Linked DNA regions of Homo sapiens. Each later gene encodes a partner of the first gene's protein in a complex. Each region holds a gene or a part of one and is shown in the gene's direction. Other genes may lie near its edges. The genes, in order: NLRP5 and KHDC3L.

Evidence for each region.
Region 2: NLRP5 (region 1) and KHDC3L share a complex: the UniProt entries of both Homo sapiens proteins name them as parts of the subcortical maternal complex.

What each region holds. Positions count from the first base shown.
Region 1 is NC_000019.10:55,987,453-55,999,374, forward strand, and holds part of NLRP5 (NACHT, LRR and PYD domains-containing protein 5), read left to right. Parts: intron 1-361; coding exon of another isoform or gene 362-461; exon of another isoform or gene 462-1,177; intron 1,178-11,922. UniProt on the Homo sapiens protein: Component of the subcortical maternal complex (SCMC), a multiprotein complex that plays a key role in early embryonic development.
Region 2 is NC_000006.12:73,358,074-73,367,733, forward strand, and holds KHDC3L (KH domain-containing protein 3), read left to right. Parts: upstream 1-4,584; 5' UTR 4,585-4,656; coding exon 4,657-4,825; intron 4,826-5,021; coding exon 5,022-5,201; intron 5,202-5,482; coding exon 5,483-5,787; 3' UTR 5,788-6,098; downstream 6,099-9,660. UniProt on the Homo sapiens protein: Component of the subcortical maternal complex (SCMC), a multiprotein complex that plays a key role in early embryonic development.

The sequences.
Region 1 (11,922 bases):
CCAGAGGGTGTTTTGGTGCTAATTGTGCAAATACTATGGTTAACCGTAACTTAGTTATTGAAATGCCATACAATTCTGACGGTGTTGTTTGTCCTGTTTACCAAGGGAGGAAGCTGAGCCCCAGATAAGTTAAATGGCTTGCCTGGGGTAGAAAGCAGCAAATCATTCAAAGCTGGGTCTGAGACTTCAAGCCCTATAATCTTAACTGCTGCTTTCTAATCATTCAGGACACCTGGGTAGAAAGGTGAGGTGGGAGGGGTACGGTCTGTAGAAAAAGCATAGAGACAAAATGCAAGCTTAGGGAAGTCACTCATCCTCAGAAAATAACCTCAACCAGCAGCCTTCCTTTACCTCCCTCCAGCTGTATTCCTGCCTGGACTCGAATAACTAGCTTCTCCCCAACTCCTCACCCACCCGACTTCACGGGAAAAAGTGACTGCCTATCCCAGATTAATCCTTAGGCCGTCCAGTCATCTTTCTCTGGGGCTTGATTGATCAGTTCCCACTCTGACAACTGGCAAATACCAGGCGTTATCATCCTGTATGCATTAACGTACTTTCCCCTGAAACAGAGCAACCCAGTCAACACCACAGAACCTCAGCTTTGAACCCTGGAGTGAGGACGGTGATGCCCTGTGTGTATTAATATGCTATGTAAGGCTGGGCGTGGTGGCTCACGCCTGTAACCCAGCACTATGGGAGGTCGAGGTGGGCAGATTACCTGAGGTCAGGAGTTCCAGACCAGCCTGGCCAACATGGTGAAACCCCGCCTCTACTAAAAAAAAAAATACAAAAAATTAGGCGTGGTGGTGGGCTCCTGTAATCCCAGCTGCTCGGGAGGCTGAGGCAGGAGAATCACTTGAATCTAGGAGGCAGAGTTTGCAGTGAGCTGAGATCACGCCATTGCACTCCAGCCTGGGCGACAGAGCAAGACTCTGTCTCAAGAAGAAAAAAAAAATACATATACACATAAATATATATATGTGTGTGTGTATATATATATATATATATATATATGCTATATAAAGTTTAAATGAAATGCTTTGAGTCACCTAAGACAGGATATAGACAAAGTCTTCATCGTCTTCTTGCTTCTTCTACCTTTATTTATTCTCAGCTCTGAATGTATGAACCTGCTCAATCACCTCATCTTAAAAATAAAATCACTGTCCCTAGACCATACTCGTTTCCTTACCCACCCCTGAGGCTTTTGTTGGTTTTTACAGCCCTGGTTCACGTCTTGGTCCTCCAGCCCCTTTAAAGGATTGTGTAGAGCGGTAAGGGAAATGTTTAATTCAAATTACGTGTATATAGAAGTGTTTAGATATGACAGTCCGAAATTCGTTCTTTCTCAAATAACCTTCCTTCTTAATTTCATTGCCTAAGTTGAGAGTCTTTGTCTTCTGTGTTTTGCTTTCAATTTCCATGTATCCAGGTGGTTTATGTTAACTCAGAAGGGGGAGAAAAACCTAGAAAATCTTAATTGTTCTGTGGTCAGGATGTAAGCTTTTAAACATGTGCTCAGAAATAAGTATTTTTCCATTTACCAATAGTCAATATTGTCCCTAAATATTTATAGGAATGTGTAGAAAAGCTTATTTTCTTGCTATGGTTCTATTTTGAGCAATACAGCACATAAACTTCAATGTTCTATCATCAGTGTTCACGTGTACCTAGTTTTTTGGTCTTCCATGGATGGGTAATTGTAAGAATACCTCAATTGTTTTGATGAAATTCATTTATGTCTACTTATCTTCTACTAAAATGATTTTTTAATGGGAGGTACTTTTTAGTATTTGGTGATTTTTGGTGTGTATGTGTTAGACAAAGTCTCCCTCTTTTGCCCAGGCTGTAGTGCAATGGCTGGATCTCTACTCACTGCACCCTCCGCCTCCCAGGTTCAAGCAATTCTGCCTCAGCCTCCCGAGTAGCTGGGATTACAGGTGCCCGCCACCACGCCCGGCTAATTTTCATATTTTTAGTAGAGACGGGGTTTCCCCATGTTGGCCGGGCTGGTCTCGAACTCCTGACCTCAGATGATCCACCCACCTCAGCCTCCCAAAGTTCTGGGATGACAGGCGTGAGCCACTGCGCCCGGCCTTTTTCAGTATTAATTTGAAAGAGCAGCAATATGAGAAGGTGTGGCGGGAAGTGTGTCCTTCCCTGCCCCCGTAGTGTCTCTTCCCTATTTTCTGCTCATCACCCAAAGACATTCTGCGCACGTGTATGGCATTAAGAGCCTTACAGATGGGGCAACTTTCTGTGCTGATTGTTGTGCATTTTTAAGGATGCAGGGCACGTTGGTGCTCAAATTAACCCACCTGTTTTTAATCGACTCCTAAATGGTCTTCAGTCTTGCTGTTTTACACACGGCTGGGTCTAATTGCATTTAAAACGGATAAAGATTGTTAAAGTACCGTCCAAAAAGATGGCACCCATTTACACTTCACTAATGTAGGAGCACCTTTTCCTTCACCCATCACAAAGCAGCGTCCAGTCACACATTGTGGACATTGTCAGCCTCACATGTCAAACGTAGTACATCATTTTGGCTATTTACCTTATCAGTAATAACTTTTTTTTAAAGTACATTTAAAAGTCATGCCGTTTCTTTTTTTTCTTTTTTCTTTTTTTTTTTTTTTTTTTTTTTTTTTTGAGACAGTGTCTTACTCTATGCCCAGGCTGGAGTGCAATGGTGAGATCTCAGCTCACTGCAACCTCTGCCTCCCGGGTTCAAGCGATTCTCCTGCCTCAGCCTCCCGAGTAGCTGGGACTACAGGCACACGCCACGATGCCCGGCTAATTTGTGTATTTTTAGTAGAGATGCGGTTTCACCATGTTGACCAGGCTAGTCTCGAACTCCTGACCTCAGGTGATCCACCTGCCTCAGGATCCCAAAGTGCTGGGATTACAAAAGTCATATGCAGTTTTTTAACTCTTCAAAATCCTTCTAATAGGCTGGGCACAGTGGCTCATGCCTATAATCCCAGCACTTGGGGAGGCCGAGGCAGGTGGATCATTTGAGGTCAGGGGTTTGAGACCAGCCTGACTAACATGGCGAAATACCCTGTCTACTAAAAATACAAAAATTAGGCCGGGCACGGTGGCTCATGCCTGTAATCCCAGCACTTTGGGAGGCCCAGGCGGGTGGATCATGAGGTCAGGAGATCGAGACCATCCTGGCTAACACGGTGAAACCCCGTCTCTACTAAAAATACAAAAATTAGCCGGGCATGGTGGTGGGCGCCTGTAGTCCCAGCTACTCGGGAGGCTGAGGCAGGAGAATGGCAGGAACCCGGGAGGCGGAGCTGGCAGTGAGCCGAGATGGTGCCACTGCATTCCAGCCTGGGCGACGGAGCAAGACTCTGTCTCAAAAAGAAAAAAAGCTGGGCATGGTTGAGGGTGTCTGTAATCCCAGCTACTGGGGAGGTTGAGGCAGGAGAATCACTTGAACCCAGGAGACGGAGATTGCAGTGAACTGAGATCATATCACTGTACTCTAGCCTGGGCAACAAAAGCAAAACTCCATCTCAAAGAAAAAAAAAATTCCGCTGAGCTGTTGATCATTATCATGGATTGGAAGAGCTGTTTACGTAATGCATTCTTTGTCATGTCTCAAATTTATTTGCAGCAGTTTTTTCAGCGGGACTTTAAAGATTTGTTTGTTTTTCTGGAGTGAGGAGGGTACTGTATTGAATTAATCTGTCATCTTGTCTCTTTTATACCATTCGATTGAGACCTTCTATTCCATTTGCTCATTATTTGGGGGCTAAATGTAAAGTAGGAATTCATGAACATAAATATTTCAAAATTTAGCCCCCGGAAATGGTGACCTTCTATCGTAGATGTTAAAGTGCAGCCTAGACATCAACAGAGTGAATATCATTCTTCTTAGAATTTTCTTGTCTAGTTTTGGCTTTTCATAGAAACATTGAGTTTCTTGTCCTGATAACAATATCAGCAGTACTTCTTGGATGATATTATACTGATGGAGGATGACTGATGTGTTGGGAATCTGCCTCTGCCTCACCACATTGAGCCTTTTATCTAGCAGCCGCATTTTAAAGCTCTCAAAACAGATAGCCACTTTTCTAAATTATGCATGTTTTACCTCTATAGTTGCTGTTCATTTGATCTCACGTTTAACTGGTTATTAGATTTTGTGTGGGATTTCATCGTTACATTTGTTACCAGCCCAATTTAATAACTACATATAATTTAAAATTGAGTAATTTATTAGGCATACATACCTACATACAGATGTTAATTTTCACCTTTTTCCACTTTTATACCTCCTCTTTATCTGATTGCTTTCCTATCAAATATAAATTAGGTAAATATAAATAATAGTGGAATATCAGATATAAAGAATAGGGAGAGAGTACAAAACTGAACGGAAGTGCTGACAGCTAACATTCTTTTTTTACTTTTTAGTTTTGGGGGTACATGTGAAGGTTTGTTACGTAGGTAAACTTGTGTCATGGGGGTTTGTTATACATACTATTTCCTCACCCAGGTTATTAAGCCCAGTACCCAGTCGTTATTTCTTTCTGCTTCTCACCCTCCTCCCACCCTCCACCCTCAGGTAGACCCCAGTATCTGTGGTTCCCCTCTTTGTGTCCATGTGTTCTTATTTAGCTCCCATTTATAAGTGAGAACATGTGGTAGTTGGTTTTCTGTTCCTGTCTTAGTTTGCTTAGGATGATGGCCCCCAGTTCCATCCATGTTCCCACAAAAGACATGATCTCATTCTTTTTTATGGCTGCATAGTATTCCATGGTGTACGTGTACCACATTTTCTTTATCCAGTCTGTCCTTGATGGGCATTTAGGTTGACTCCATGTCTTTTCTATTGTAAACAGTGCCACGGTGAACATTTGCATGCATGTATCTTTATGGGAGAATGCTTTATATTCCTCTTAGTGTATATACCCAGTGATGGGATGGCTGGGTCCAACGCTACTGCTTTTAGCTCTTTGAGGAATCTCCACCCTGCTTTCCACAATAGCTGAACTGATTTACACTCCCACCAACAGTGTATAAGCTTTCCATTTTTTCCTGCAACCTCAGCAGCGTCGGTTTTTTGACTTTTTAATAATGACACGTAACATTCTTATGGGATTCTCTGTAGGGCTTGTGTCAAATCCAGCCCATTGCCCAGTTTTGTAAATAAAGATTTATTGGAACACAGCTTTTCTCCTTTGTTGACAAATTGTCTACAGCTACTTTCCCAGTGCAGGAGCAGCTAAGCACGGGTGGCAGAGAGCAAATGGCCCCAAAGCCAAAAATGCCTGGCTCCTTCTGGGAGATTTGCTGACCCCTGATCTTTGTCAAAAATAGATACATTTGCTGCAGTTTTTCCTTTATTTTAGTTGACACATAACTGTACATATTTATGGAGACTTTTTTTTTTTGAAATGAATTTTCGCTCTTGTTGCCCAGGCTGGAGTGCAATGGTGCAATCTTGGCTCACTGCAACCTCTGCCTCCCAGGTTCAAGCGATTCTCCTGCCTCAGCCTCTTGAGTAGCTGGGATTACGGGCACCTGCCACCATGCCTGGCTAATTTTGTATTTTTAGTAGAGATGGGGTTTCTCCATGTTGGTCAGGCTGGTCTTGAACTCCCGACCTCAGGTGATCCACCCACCTCGGCCTCCCAAAGTGCTGGGATTACAGGTGTGAGCCACTGCGCCCGGCCCGAGTGATATTTTGATACCTGTATACAATGTATCATGATCAAATCAGGGGACTTAGCATATTCATCACCCCAAACATTTGTGTTGTGAACACTCTGTCCTCCCTTCTAGCTTTTTGAGAGTGGACAATAAGTTATAGTTCACCATATTCACCTGCAGTGCTGCAGAACACCTGCACCCATTTCTCCCTTCTACCTGTAATCTTAGCACCCATGAGCCATACTCTCCCCCTCCTCTCCCCCTCCTCTCCCCCTCCTCTCCCCCTCCTCTCCCCCTCCTCTCCCCCTCCTCTCCCCCTCCTCTCCCCCCTCTCTCCCCCCTCTCTCCCCCCTCCCTCCCCCTCTCCCCCCTCCCCTCCTCTCCCCCCTCCCCTCCCCCCTCCCCTCCCCCCCTCCCCTCCCCCTCCCCCTCCCCCTCCCCCTCCTCTCCCCTCCTCTCCTCCCCCCTCCTCCTCTCAACCTCCCCTCTCCCCTCTCCCTCCTCTCCCCTATCCTCTAATACCCACAATTACATCCCCTACTTCCATAGTCCCATTTGCTCAATTTAACTCCCACATATGAGTAAAATACATTCAGTATTTAGTTTCCCATGCCTGGTTTATTTTGCTTCACACAATGAACTACAGGCTGTAGCTCACATGAAGAGCTACAGGCTCATCTGTGTTGTCACAAATGGCAGGATTTTTTGAAGGCTGAAACATGTTCCCTTGTGTGTGTATACCACGTTTTCTTGATTCATTTGTTGATGGACAGTTAGGTAGATTACATATCTTAGCTATCGTGAATAGTGGGGTGGTAAACATGAGAGTGCAGACATACCTTTGATATACTTCGGGTAAATCACCAGATCGCTGGATCATAGGGTATTAATCTATTTTCAGTTCTTTGAGACACTGCTACACTGTTTTCCATAATGGCTGTGCTAATTTACATTTCCACTGACAGTGGAAAGGAGTTTCTTTCTCTGCATCCTTGCCAGCATTTATTTTTCGTCTTTTTTGATAGTAGCCATTCCAACTAGAGGGAAATGCAAATCAAAACCACAGTGAGATTGCGATGATGAGTAATGTTGAATCTTTTTTCGTATCTGTTGGTCATTTGGATGTCTTTTGAGAAATGTCTGTTCAGGTTTTTACCCACTTCTTAAATGGATTACTTGGAGTTTTGCTATACAGTTGTTTGAGTTCCTCATATATTCTGGGTATTAGTTCCTTGCCAGATCATTATTTTGCAAATATTTTCTCCCATTCTGCGGGGTTTTTTTGGGAGGGGGGACAGAGTCTTGTTCTGTCACCAGGCTGGAGTGCAGTGGCACCATCTCAGCTCACTGTAACCTCCAACTCCCTAGTTCAAGCGATTCTCCTGCCTCAGCCTCCCCAGTAGCTGGGATTTCAGGCACGTGCCACCACACCCAGCTAATTTTTGTATTTCTAGTAGAGATGGAGTTTCACCATGTTGGCCAGGATGGTCTCGATCTCCTGACCTCATGATCCACCTGCCTTGGCCTCCCAAAGTGCTGGAGTTACAGGCCTGAGCCACTGTGCCCAGCCAGGTTGTCTCTTTACTCTTGGACTATTTCCTTTGCTGTACAGAAGCTCTTTAGTTGGATGTACTCCTATTGGTCTATTTTTGCTTTTGTTGCCTGTCCTTTTGAAGTCTTAGCCGCAAAATATTTGCCTTGACTTGTATTCAGAAGAGCTTTCCCTATGTTTTCTTCTGGTAGTTTTATTATTTCAAGTCTTATGTTTAAGTACTTTATCTTGAGTTGATTTTTATATATGGTGAGAGACAGGGGTCTAGTTTAATTCTGCATATGGTTATCCCGTTTTCGCAGTACCACCTAGTGAACACAGTGTACTTTCCCTAATCTTGGTGCCTTTGAAAATGAGTTGGATGAGTTCATGCTCTTTGTAGGGACATGGATGAAGCTGGAAACTATCATTCTGAGCAAACTATCGCAAGGACAGAAAACCAAACACCACATGTTCTCACTCATAGGTGGGAATTGAACAATGAGAACACTTGGACACAGGGTGGGGAACATCACACACTGGGGCCTGTCCTAGGGTGTGGGGCTGGGGGAGGGATAGCATTAGGAGAAATACCTAATGCAAACGATGAGTTCATGGGTGCAGCAAACCAACATGGCACATGTATACCTGTGTAACAAACCTGCACGTTGTGCACATGTACCCTAGAACTTAAAGTATTAAAAAAACTTAAATATTAAAATATTCTAACAAGTCCTGAAAAATACATTAAAAAAGAAAGAGTTGGCTATAAATATATGGATTTCTGAATTATCTATTCTGTTGGTCTATGTCTGTTTTCATGACAGTGCCATGCTGTTTTGGTTACTATAGCTTTGTGAAGTCAGGTAATATGCCTCCAGCTTTCTTTTTGCTCAAAATTGTTTGGGCTACTTGGGATCTTTTGTGGTTCTATACAAATATTAGGATTGTTTTTCTATTTCTGTGAAGAATGTCGTTGGTGTTTTGATAGGGATTGCATTGAATCTGTAGATTGTTTTGGGTAGGATGGCCATTTTAACAACATTCTTCTAATCAGTGAACGTTAGATGTCTCCATTTTTATCTATCCTCTTCAATTTTTTTCAGTATTCTGTGGGTTTTACTATAGATATTTCTTACCTCCTTAGTTAAATTTATTTCTAGGTACATTTTTGTAGCTATTATAAAGGACATTGCTTTCTTTTTCAGCTAGTTCATTATTGGTGTTTAGAAATGCTACTGTTTTTATGTTGATTTTTGCATCATACTGAGTTCATTTATTATATAAAAACTTGCATCATACTGAAAAATTTATCCAAAAATCAACATTTTTGTATGTTGATTCTGCAACTTTACTGAATTCCTTTATCAGTTCTCTGTCTTTTGGTGGGGTCTGTAGGCTTTTCTAAATGAAAGATTATATTGCCTGCAAACATGAACAATCTACTTCTTCTCCAATTTTGATGCCCTTTGTTTCTTTTTCTTCCCTAATTGCTCTGGCTAAGACTTCCAGTACTGTGTTAAATAGGAGTGGCGGAAGTGGGCACCCTGTGTGCCAGTTCTTAGGGAAAAGGCTTTCTTCTTTTCCACATTCAGTATAATGCTAGCTGTGGGTTTGTCATACATGGCCTTTATTGTTCTGAGTTATGTTTCTTCTGCGTCTTATCATAAAGGGATGTTGAATTTTTTTTTCTTTGTTCATCTTTTCTTTTATACTTTAAGTTCTAGGGTACATGTGCACAACGTGCAGGTTTGTTACATATGTATACATGTGCCCTGTTGGTGTGCTGCACCCATTAACTCATCATTTACATTAGGTATATCTCCTAATGCTCCCTCCCCCACAACAGTCCCCGGTGTGTGACGTTCCCCTTCCTGTGTTCAAGTGTTCTCATTGTTCAGTTCCCACCTATGAGTGAGAACATGTGGTGTTTGGTTTTTCGTCCTTGCGATAGTTTGCTCAGAATGATGATTTCCAGCTTCATCCATGTCCCTACAAGGACATGAAATCATCCTTGTTTATGGCTGCATAGTATTCCATGGTGTATATGTACCACATTTTCTTAATCCAGTCTATCACTGATGGACATTTGGGTTGGTTCCAAGTCTTTGCTATTGTGAATAGTGCCACAATAAACATACGTGTGCATGTGTCTTTATAGCAACATGATTTATAATCCTTTAGGTATATACCCAGTAATGAGATGGCTGGATCAAATGGTATTTCTAGTTCTAGATCCCTGAGGAATCGCCACACTGACTTCCACAATGGTTGAACTAGTTTACAGTCCCACCAACAGCGTAAAAGTGTTTCTATTTCTCCACATCCTCTCTAGCACCTGTTGTTTCCTGACTTTTTAATGATCACCATTCTAACTGGTGTGGGATGGTATCTCATTGTGGTTTTGATTTGCATTTCTCTGATGGCCAGTGATGATGAGCATTTTTTCTTGTATCTGTTGGCTATATAAATATCTTCTTTTGAGAAGTGTCTGTTCATATCCTTTGCCCACTTTTTGATGGGGTTGTTTGTTTTTTTTCTTGTAAATGTTGATTTTATCAAATGCTTTTTCTGCATGTCTTGATGATCGTGTGGTTTTTGTCCTTCAGTCTGCTGATGAACCACCCTTGCAACCCTGAGATGAATCCCACTTCATCATGGGGAATGATCTTTTTGATGTGTTCTTAGATTTGGTTACCTAGAATTTTGTCAAAGATTTTTGTATCTATGTTCATGAGAGACGTTGGCCTGTAGTTTTCTTTTTTGTGTGTCCTTTTCTGGTTTTGGTATCAGGACAATGCTTGGCTCATAGAATGAGGAAGAATTCCCTCCCCTTCAATTCTCGGAATAGTTTGAGAAGAATTGGTATAAGTTCTGTAAAAGTTTAAAAGGTAGCTGGGCATGGTGGCTCATACCTGTAATCCCAGCACTCTGGGAAGCCAAGGTGGACAGATTACTTGAGGACAGGAGTTAGAGACCAGCCTAGCCAACATGGTAAAACCCCATCTCTACCAAAAATACCAAAATACCAAAAATTCTGGTTAAAATACCAAAAAAATAGCTGGGTGTGGTGGCTGGCACCTGTAATTTCAGCTACTTGGGAGGTTGAGGCAGGAGGATCACTTGACCCCAGAAGGCAGCAGTTGCAGTGAGCTGAGATTGCACCACTGCAGTCCAGCCTGGGTGACAGAGCAACACTCTATCTCAAAAAAAAAAATTAATTTGAAGGATATCTAGTCCTGGTTTGTAAAGTGTTTCTGTTGATACTATTTATACATCCATTGAAGCTATATATTTTTTTATTCTCTGAATGTTGAAGGTAGGGAGCAGGAAGTACTATCTACTCTTATAAATGGTTTTATCATAATCAAAATAATCAAAACAACCATGGTAGCATACACACACACAGAAAACATCTTTTCCTGGAGGGTAGGTAGGTTAATGAAAACCTTGCCTCTTTTAATGAAATTAAGTAGGAATTCCAAAGATTGGATTAGATTTATCTTATCTCAGTCCTGAATTTCAGACATTCTAAAATTATAAAAATATAAGAAACCAGGTGTGGGGTGTGCACCTGTAGTCCCAGCTACTTGGGGAGTCTGAGGCAGGAAGATCACTTGAGCCCAGGAGTTCAAGGCTATATGGTGAGCTATGATAGTCACCACACTCCAGCCTGAGGGACAGAGTGAGACACTTTTTCTAAAAATATATATGAGGCCAGATGTGGTGGCTCACGCCTGTAATCCCAGCACTTTGGGAGGCCGAGGCGGGTGGGCCACAAGGTCAGGAGTTCGAGACCAGTCTGGCCAACCTAGTGAAACCCTGTCTCTACTAAAAATACAGAAAATTAGCCGGGCATGGTGACAGGTGCCTGAAATCCCAGCTACTCTGGAGGCTGAGACAGGAGAATTGCTTGAACCCGGGAGGTGGAGGTTGCAGTGAGTTGAGATTGTGCCACTGTACTCCAGCCCGGGCGACAATGCAAGCCTTCGTCTCAAAATATGTGTGTGTGTGTGTATATATATATATATATATATATATATATATGTGTGTGTGTGTATATATATATATATGTGTATATATATATACACACACTTTAGCCTCACCTGCAGATTCACAAATTGAAGCAATCCTAAATCCACTTTTATTTTTAATTGACAATAATTGTATATATTTGCGAGGTACAATGCGATGTTTAGATATATGTATACATGGCAGAAAAAAGCTAACATGTCCATTGCCTTAGTTACTTTTTGTGGTGAGGATGTTTAAAATCTACTTTTAGCAATTTTGGAGCATATATTAATACATCTTTTCTTAAATTCCATGGCAGGTTAAATACATCATTATTAACTCTAGTTGCCATGCTGTGCAGGGGATCCCTAAAACTCATTTCTCTGACTGAAACTTGTTTGTACCTTTTCATCAATATTTCCTTTTTCCCCATTTTATCCCCCAGTCTCTGGCAACCACCATTCTTCTCTCTGCTGCTATGAATTTAATTGTTTTAGAATCCACACAATTGAGATCCTACTAAATCTTTTTTTTTCTTTTTCTTTTTTTTTTTTTTTTTTGGAGACAGAGTTTTGCTCTTGTTGCCCAAGCTGGAGTGCAATGCCACAATCTTGGCTCACTGCAACCTCTGCCTCCCAGGTTCAAGTGATTCTTCTGCCTCAGCCTCCCGAGTAGCTGGGGTTACAGGTGCGCGCCACCATGCC
Region 2 (9,660 bases), on another chromosome or scaffold:
GTTTTATTTATTTATTTATTTATTTATTTATTTATTTGTTTGTTTTTGAGACAATGTCTCACTTTGTTATCCAGGTTGAGTACAGTGTGGTGATCTCGGCTCACTGCAGCTTTGGCCTCCCTGGTTCAAGCGATTCTTCCACCTCAGTCTTCCAAGTAGCTGAGACCACAGGCATGCGCCACCATGCATGACTAATTTTTTAGTTTTTATGGAGATAGGCTCTCCCTATATTGCCCAGGCTGGTCTAGAACTCCTAGCCTCAAGCAATCGTCCAGCCTCAGCCTCCCAAAGTGCTGGGATTGCAGGTGTGAGCCACCACGCCCAGCCCTGGAGAAAATTTTTATAACCAAATGTTAAAGATCACTTCTGCTGTAGGTCTGGGTTGCAGCAAGTGTCTTAGAGGACATCTGGCCATTGCATGGGCTCTGCTTGCCACCCATCGGTACTTGCATTTCCAAATAATGACTTTTTAGAAAGGTGGAACACTTAAAAGCATATGCATTGCTTTTAAAAGCATATGCATTGCTTTTATCCAAAATTAATGTCAATGTTTATCATATTATAATGTTAGCAACAAGGCTGGTGAGTATATAGGTTGGTTCGACCTCGGAGGGATGCCATTTGGCAATACCTTATCAATTGGAAATTTACAGATCCTTTGACTCAGCAATTCTACATTTGAAATTTCATCCTATAGTTATACTCCCCCTTGTAAGAAATGACATGTAGAAGGATACTGATTTCAATAGCATTACTAGCACAAGTAAAAGATACCATACAAGGTAAATATTCACGAAGATTGGGAAAAAATACATATTAAAGAAATAAGGCTGGGTTCCGTGGCTCATGCCTGTAATCCCAACACTTTGGGAGGCTAAGGTGGGAGAATCGCTTGAGCCCAGGAGTTCGAGACCATCCTGGGCATATAGTGGCCATGTTGCAGGCACTGAGACATGATGAAACCCCATCTCTATTAAAAATACAAAAATTAGCTGGGCTTGGTGGCGGATGCCTGTAATCCCAGCTACTCGGGAGGCTGAGGCATGAGAATCGCTTGAACCCAGGAGGTGGAGGTTGCAGTGAGCCGATATTGCACCACTGCACTCCGGCCTGTTGACACAGCGAGACTCCATCTCAAAAAAAAAAAGACAAAAACAAAAACAAAAAAAGACCAGCCTGTCCTAAAAAAAAAAATTAAAACAAATTAGTTGTGATGGCACATGCCCGTGATCTTAGCTACTTAGGAAGCTGAGGTGGGAAGATCACTTGAACCCAGAAGTTGGAGGCTGCTGTGAACTATGATGGGTCACTGCACGCTAGCCTGGGTGACGGAGTGAGATGCTGTCTCATCAAAAATAAATAAATAAATAAATCCATTATCAATATCTAGAAAAACAAAACTTTGTCAAGAAAAGAAATCATAGTATATACAACTATGAATAGTTTACAAAGTCGTAATAGTGCGAACACTGAATATTGATCTAACAAAATCATATCTCTGTTTTAAGATGATCTAGGTCTGATGCACATAGTTAAGTCCCAGCTTACCTGGGTTGGAAGAGGGTGAAAGATAGTGGTAGATATATAAATCCTAGCCTCCCAAAGTACTAGGATTACAGGCTTGAGCCACCGTGCCCCGTCGTTTTTTGTTTTTTTTTTTTTTGTTTGTGTGTGTGTGTTTTCTTTTTTCTTTTTCTTTTTCTTTTTTTGTTGAGAGGGAGTCTCGCACCGTCGCCCAGGATGGAGTGCAATGGCGCAGTCTGGGCACATCGCAACCTCCGCCTCCCAGGTTCAAGCGATTCTCCTGCCTCAGCCTGTCGAGTACCTGGGATTACAGGCGCCAGCCACCACGGCCAGCTAATTTTTGTGTTGTTAGTAGAAAGGGATTTCGCCATGTTAGTCAGGCTGCTCTCAAACTCCTGACCTCGTGATCCGCCTACCTCGGCCTCCCAAAGTGCTGGGATTATAGGTGTGAGCCACTGTGCCCGGACTTCTACGTCGTTTTTTGACATTTTTTATTTCTTTTTTTTTTTTTTCCGAGACAGAGTCTTGCTCTGTCCTCCAGGCTGGAGTGCAATGGCACGATCTTGGCTCACTGCAACCTCTGCCTCCCGGGTTCAAGCAATTCTCCTGCCTCAGTCTCCCGAGTAGCTGGGATTACAGGCCCCTGCCACCACATCTCGCTAATTTTTGTATTTTTAGTAGAGATGGGGTTTCACCATGTTGGCCAGGCTGGTCTTGAACTCCTAACCTCAGGTGATACGCCCGCCTTGGCCTCCCAAATTGCTGGGATTACATGTGTAAGCCACCACGCCCGGCCTGTTTTTTGACTTTTTTTTTTTTTTTTGAGACGGAGTCTCACTCTGTCACCCAGGCTGGCGAGCAGTGGCTCAATCTCAGCTCACTGCAACCTCCACCCTCTAAGTTCAAGCAATTCTCCCGCCTCAGTCTCCCAAGTAGCTGGGATTACAGGCACCTGCCACTGCGCCCGGCTAATTTTTGTATTTTTAGTACAGATGGGGTTTCACCATGTTGGCCAGGCTGGTCTTTAACTCCTGACCTTGTGATCCACCCGTCTCAGCCTCCCAAAGTGCTGGGATTACAGGCATGAGCCACCATGCCCGCCCTGTTTTTTGAGTTTTTAATAAAAGTCATTGTGACTGGTGTATGATGGTATATCGGTGTGATTTTAATTTGCATTCCTCTTCTGATTAGTGATGCGGAGCATTTTTTCATGTGTTTGTAGGCTGCCTGTATTTCTTCTTTTGAGAAATATCTCTTCATGCTCCTTGCCCAGTTTTGTTTGTTTGTTTTGTGGAGACAGTCTCGCTCTATCCAGCAGGCTGCAGTTCAGTAGCCTGATATCGGCTCATTGCAACCTCCGCCTCAGGAGTTCAAGCGATTCTCATGCCTCAGCTTCCTGAGTAGCTGGGATTACAGGTGCCCGTCACCATGCCCGGCTAATTTTTGTATTTTTAATAGAGACAGGATTTCGCCATGTTGGCCAGGCTGGTCTAGAACTCCTGGCGTGAGCCACTGTGCCCGGCTTTGCCCCATTTTTAATGGTTTTTTTTTTTCTTGTTGTTTTGCAAAGTACTTTAATCATCTCAATTAGCAAGTAAGAATTTCCCAACTACTAAATCATTCCTACATATGAAATATATTCAGCCGGTTGGGCATGGTCTGAATATATACATTCGGCCTATTAATGTGGCAAACCTGAAGTTCTCTTCAGTGTTTCAATACTGAATAAAAATAAATTATAAATTATAATTTGTCTTATAGCAACACATCTAAAACAGTTATTATTATTATTATTTTTGAGACAGGGTCTCACTCTGTCACCCAGGGGGGAGTGCAGAGGCACCATCACTGCTTACTGTAGACTCAGCCTCTCTGGGATCAAGGGATTGTCCCACCTCAGCCTTCCGAGTAGCTGGGACTACAGGTGCGTGCCACCTAGTCCAGCTAATTTTTGTATTTTTTGTAGGGATAGGGTTTTATCATTTTGCCCAGGCCAGAAGGATTGCTTGAGACCAGCTTGGGCAACATAACGAACCCTTGTCAGAAAGGGAAGGGGAAAAGAAAGGAAAGGAAAAGGGAAAGGAAAAAAGAAAGGAAGGAAGAAAGAGACAAATATAATTGTGTTATTTAGAGAACAGAGGCATCACTGGGCATGGTGTCGGGAGCTTGTAGTCCCAGCTACTGGGGGAGCTGAGGAGGGAGGATCTCTTGAGCCCAGGAGATGGAGGCTGCAGTGAGCTATAATCACACCACCGCCCCCTAGCCTGGGTGACACAGAGAGACCCTGCAGCAAATTTTAAAAATTAAAAATAAAAAAGAGAATAGAGATGTCAAAAATTTTCAAGGAATCTCATCTTGTGTCCAAACCACGAGAACTATCTGTGGTTAGGTGTGTTCATGGCTGCATTAATTAAAAGCGTGCTATAGTCCCACTACTGGGGAGGCTAAAGAGGGAGGATTTTTTTGAGCCCTGGAGTTCGAAGCCAACCTGGGCAACATAGCCAGGCCCCATAACTTTTTTTCTATCCATTTTTTTTTTTTACTATGCAAATCTCACTACACAGACCCTATAACAGAAAAAAAAAAGAAAAAGAAAGAAAAAAGGCGGGCGCTTATTCTGCTCTGTACTCAGCAGTCTCAGGCAAGTGACAGAATAATCTGAAAACCTGGTCCAGAGGGAGGAAACGTAGTGGCCAGGGATCAGAAGCGCGTGAGGGACCTATGAAGTATTCATTCTGCAAGTATTAGTTCTTTCCTCTGGGAGAGATACTGGGCTTGCCCACGCCTTCCTGAGTCCATGGTTAAGACTCCCGCTGGGCACCAGCGGATTCCTGGTGCCCAGAGCCCGGTTCCTCCTACCGGGTGCGCTGGGAAAAGGGCTGCTCCTGACAGAAGGGACACTCTAAGAGCAGCCCAGGAACCGGTGCACTTGGGCGGCCTCGGAAGAAGCCGGGGCTCCTGGAGGCGGAGGCGAGGCCTGGGACCCAATAAGAAGGGCGCGGCTAGAGAGGAGGGGCTGGCCAAAAGCCCTTGAAATAAGGCCCAGGCAGAACCGCGGTTCTAGTCTCCCAGCTCCAGCTCGGCCTTTGGGTTTGCTGTGGTGTCCTTGTCTCCTGCAGGACCGGCCGCAGCATGGACGCTCCCAGGCGGTTTCCGACGCTCGTGCAACTGATGCAGCCAAAAGCAATGCCAGTGGAGGTGCTCGGTCACCTCCCTAAGCGGTTCTCCTGGTTCCACTCTGAGTTCCTGAAGAATCCGAAGGTAGTTCGCCTTGAGGTTTGGCTGGTGGAAAAGATCTTCGGTGAGTGGACCAAGAAGGGGCAGCCCCCATGCGGCTTCTTTCTGCCACCCATACCCACAGCCCACATATTCTGGCTGCGTTCCAGGGCGATCCTCACCAGTAGCCAATGCCCTCTGGCTGTCTCCTCCTTCCACCTTCCCCTCCCAAGACCCCCGGGAGCCACCGGTCCCTCACAGCCTCTCTGCTACCCGCGCAGGCCGGGGCGGAGAACGCATCCCGCACGTCCAGGGTATGTCCCAAATCTTGATTCACGTGAATCGATTGGACCCTAACGGCGAGGCTGAGATCTTGGTATTTGGGAGGCCTTCTTACCAGGAGGACACAATCAAGATGATCATGAACCTGGCTGACTATCACCGCCAGCTCCAGGCGAAAGGTACGGGGCTGGGAATAGGGCTACCTGGAGCAAACCCTGGCTCCGTAGGAGTGATCCTGGGGTTTCCTGGCTGCTGGGGCGGCAGTCTCGCCCTCCCAGTCGGCCTGCGGTTGGTGGGTGGGGGAGGGGGCGGTTCTCGCTGCCACGGATCCAGAAGGCCAAATTGAACCCTCGTTCTGGGATTTCTGGCTCCTACTCCCGCAGGCCGCTTGGGTGACTGTCCTTTTTTGGAGAGGATATAGAGACACAGCTGTGGCCTCTGCACACTGCTCTTCTTCCAGGCTCAGGAAAGGCCCTCGCCCAGGATGTCGCCACTCAGAAGGCCGAGACCCAGCGGTCTTCAATAGAAGTCCGGGAGGCCGGGACGCAGCGTTCGGTGGAGGTCCGGGAGGCCGGGACCCAGCGTTCGGTGGAAGTCCAGGAGGTCGGGACACAGGGTTCTCCGGTGGAGGTGCAGGAGGCCGGGACCCAGCAGTCTCTCCAGGCTGCCAACAAGTCGGGGACCCAGCGATCCCCCGAAGCTGCCAGCAAGGCAGTGACCCAGCGGTTTCGCGAGGATGCCCGGGACCCAGTTACTAGATTATGAAGGCATCTCAGGCCCTGGAGCCAGAGCCAGTCAGGGGTTAAAGTGAAAGCCCGTATTTCCGCCCAGAAGCTGGGGTTGGGGAGAGGATGTGGATTTTTTGTTTTACCCTTTCTGTTGCATGGTTGCAAACACAAACTTGAGTTCTAATAAAGAATTGCAAAGTGGAAGCCCGCCCCCCGCCTCCCCCCCGCCTCACTTAAGTCCAGGAAGCTGGGGTGGCGAGGAAGGATGATGTGGATTGTTTTTGTTTTACACCTTCTGTTGAATGGTTGCCAACACAAACTTGAGTTCTAATAAATAATTGCATTTCCCTAACGTCTGTATTTTGGAAGGTAGAGGGGAGGGAAAGGCGCATTCCTCCAACAGCCCAGTTCTGCCCTGCGCAGCCCTCTACCTCGAGGCAGGTGGGGCCTGTGGTTCCTAGCCGCCCGAGGTGGCCATCTTCCCCGGCTGTGGTCCGGTGTGCCCCTTGTACTCCTTAACCGCGCGCATCTGGCTTTAACAGGTGAGAAGCCTCTCTGGCCCACTAGGAAATCTCTCCAAGCCCGCTGTCGTTCTACTCAAGGTGACTTGGGATGAGAAAACTGGGTCGCTTGGGGGCCAGCTGGATTTGGAAGGCCCTGGGTGTATTGCTACTCTGTCACAGAACACTTTCTCAGCTGGGGAAAATGACATCGGGGAAGGGGGAAACGAAGAGACCCGAGCTGCACTCTTGGGCTGCACTGTTGCAGTCTTCAGGTCTTGCTTGGGTCACCCACCTTCCACGAAGGTCGTGGACACCAGCAAGATACAGGCATCGGCTACTCTTTCCTCAGTTACTATGGCAGCGAGAAGCCCCAGCAGAGAACACTTTGGCTTCCCTAGGGTCACAGCTTTGGTCAGGGCGCTGGGATGCAGGTCCCTGAGCCTGCGAATTAATCTAGAAGGATGCAAGCCAACAGCTGGGTGCTAGGATTAAACAATAGCACGCAGTAATTCTATAATTAGGATTTTTTTTTTTTTTTTTTTTTTTTTTAACCAACCAAGAATCACTGGTAATCTTCATTTTATTTTGGAGACAGAATCTCTCTCTGTGGCCCAGGCTGGAGTGCAACGGCTCGATCTCGCCTCAACACAACCTCTGCCTCCTGGGTTCAAACGATTCTCCTGCCTCAGCCTCCCGAGTAGCTGGGACTACAGGCCCGCGCCACCACGCCCAGCTAATTTTTGTGTTTTTAGTAGAGAAGGGGCTTCACTATGTTGGCCAGGCTGATCTGACTTCAGGTGATCCACCCGCCTGGGTCTCCGAAAGTGCTGGGATTACAGGCATGAGCCACCACGCCCGGCCAATCACTAGTAATTTTTAAAAGTTCAAAGCTAACTTTAAATATAAGGTGAATGTCTATCAGACTCTTTTTGTCACCGCTAATTATCACTCCAGTTTAAAATAATCATGTATCTTACAATAAGGGAATTACCACATAAAGCTGAATTTACAATAACTTATTAGCAACTTTTAACCGCTAATCATTTTATTAAAATAGTTGACTAATTTTAGAAGAACTTTAGAACACTTTAAATTCAAAATCAACACAAAATCAGTTTCAAATGAGGCTACATCAGAGCAGAGCTAAAACTTAATGTGTATGTTGTCTTTCTCTGTGTAATACCCACCTTACCAGAATGTCAGGTTCTCTCCTTTACAAGCTGTTTTCACTGTCCTTGCCCAAACTCAGTGTTACCAATCTATTTTATGTTCATGTGTAACTTTTCTACTTTTTCTGATATCTACCCCCATTTTAATTAAGTAGCTTTATAGACTGTTTTAATATTTAAGAGGGCAAGTCTACTCTTTTTTTTTTTTTTTTTTTTTTGAGATGGAGTCTCACTCTGTCACCCAGGCTGGAATGCAACGGCATTCCACTGCAACCTCCACCTCCTGGGTTTAAGCAATTCTCCTGCCTCAGCCTCCCGAGCAGCTGGAATTACAGGCGCCCACCACCACACCTGGCTGATTTTTTTTATTTGTAGTAGAGACTGGGTTTCACTATGTTGGCCAGGCTGGTCAACACCTGTCTCAGCCTCCCAAAGTGCTGGGAATACAGGCCTGAGCCACCATGTCCGGCCCTCACAACCTTTTCAACTCATATCCAAAATATCTATGAACATCTTTCCCGGAACTGACACTTTAAGTTTCACCTATTCATATGGCTGCTTCTTTCTCTAAACACCCAGTAAATGGAAACTCTATATCATGCTGGAATTATAGATGCCATCAAGCCAAGCCAGCTGCCCAGCATGGAGGAACAGGAGAGGTTGCCCTATGCCAAGAGTCTTGAGAGTCAAAGATTTCAAATATTGCCCAAATATAGTCATATTCTGAGGTACTGGGGATTAGGACTTCAATATATGTTAATGTGTACAAAGGATGGAAGGAGTTTAGGATCATACAGTATTTTTGGAAAAATTAGAATAAGTTTTAAGCTTACCCCTTTTTCCCCAATAACAAAATATTTAATGGGCCAGGTGCAGTGGCTTATGCCTGTAATCCCACCACTTTGGAAGGCCAAGGCAGGTGGATCAGTTGAGGGCACGAGTTCGAGACCAGAATGGCCATTCTCTACTAAAAATACAAAAATTAGCCAGGCATGGTGGCAGGTGCCTGTAATCCCAGCTACTCGGGAGGCTGAGGCAAGAGAATCGCTTGAACCCGGGAGGCAGAGGTTTCGGTGAGCCGAGATTGCACCATTGCACTCCAGCCTGGGTGACAGAGTGAGACTGTCTCAACAAAAACCCAAAATGTTCAATGGTTTTATAAAAATTCCACCAGGGGTCAGGCACGGTGGCTCACGCCTGTAATACCAGCACTTTGGGAGGCTGAGGCAGGTGGATCACGAGGTCAGGAAACCGAGACCATCCTGGCTAACATGGTGAAACCCCATCTCTACTAAAAATACAAAAAATTAGCTGGGCGTGGTGGCACGCACCTGTAATCCCAGCTACTCAGGAGGCTGAGGCAAGAGAATCGTTTGAACCTGGGAGACGGAGGTTGCAGTAAGCCAAGATCGTGCAACTGCACTCCAGCCTGGGTGACAAAGCGAGACTCTGTCTCAAAAAATAAAATAAAATAAATAAATAAAAATAAAAATCCCACCAGGGCCAGGTGCAGTGGCTCACGCCTCTAATCCCACCACTTTGGGAGGCCAAGGCAGGAGAATCACCTGAGGTCAGGAGTTTGAGACCACCCTTGCAACATAGTGAAATCCCGTCTCTACTAAAAATACGAAAATTAGCCAGGTGTGTTGGCACATGCCAGTAATCCCAGATACTTGGGAGGCTGAGGCAGAAGAATTGCTTGAATACGGGAGGCGGAGGTTGTAGTGAGCCGAGATCACACCACTGCACTCCAGCCTGGGTAACAGAGCGAGACTCCATCTCAAAAATAAATAAAAATAAACAATAAAAATCTCACCAGGAAAGCTGGGCACGGTGGCTCACGCCTGTAATCCCAGCACTTTGGGAGGCTGAGGTGGACGGATCACGAGGTCAGGAGATGGAGACCATCCTGGCTAACACAATGAAACCCCGTCTCTACTAAAATACAAAAAAAAAATTAGCCGGGCATGGTGGCGGGCGCCTGCAGTCCCAGCTACTCGGGAGGCTGAGGCAGGAGAATGGGGTGAACCTGGGAGGCGGAGCGTACAGTGAGCCGAGATTGCGCCACTGCACCCCAGCCTGGGGGACAGAGCGACTCCATCTCAAAAAAAAAAAAAAAAAAAAAAAGGAATGAATAAAGAAAAATGTAAAACTGAAACAAAGAAAATATTCAACATCACCTCTAATCAAAAAAGCACAATTAAAGAGACTTGTGAGTTTAAAACGCTTGCAAAAGGC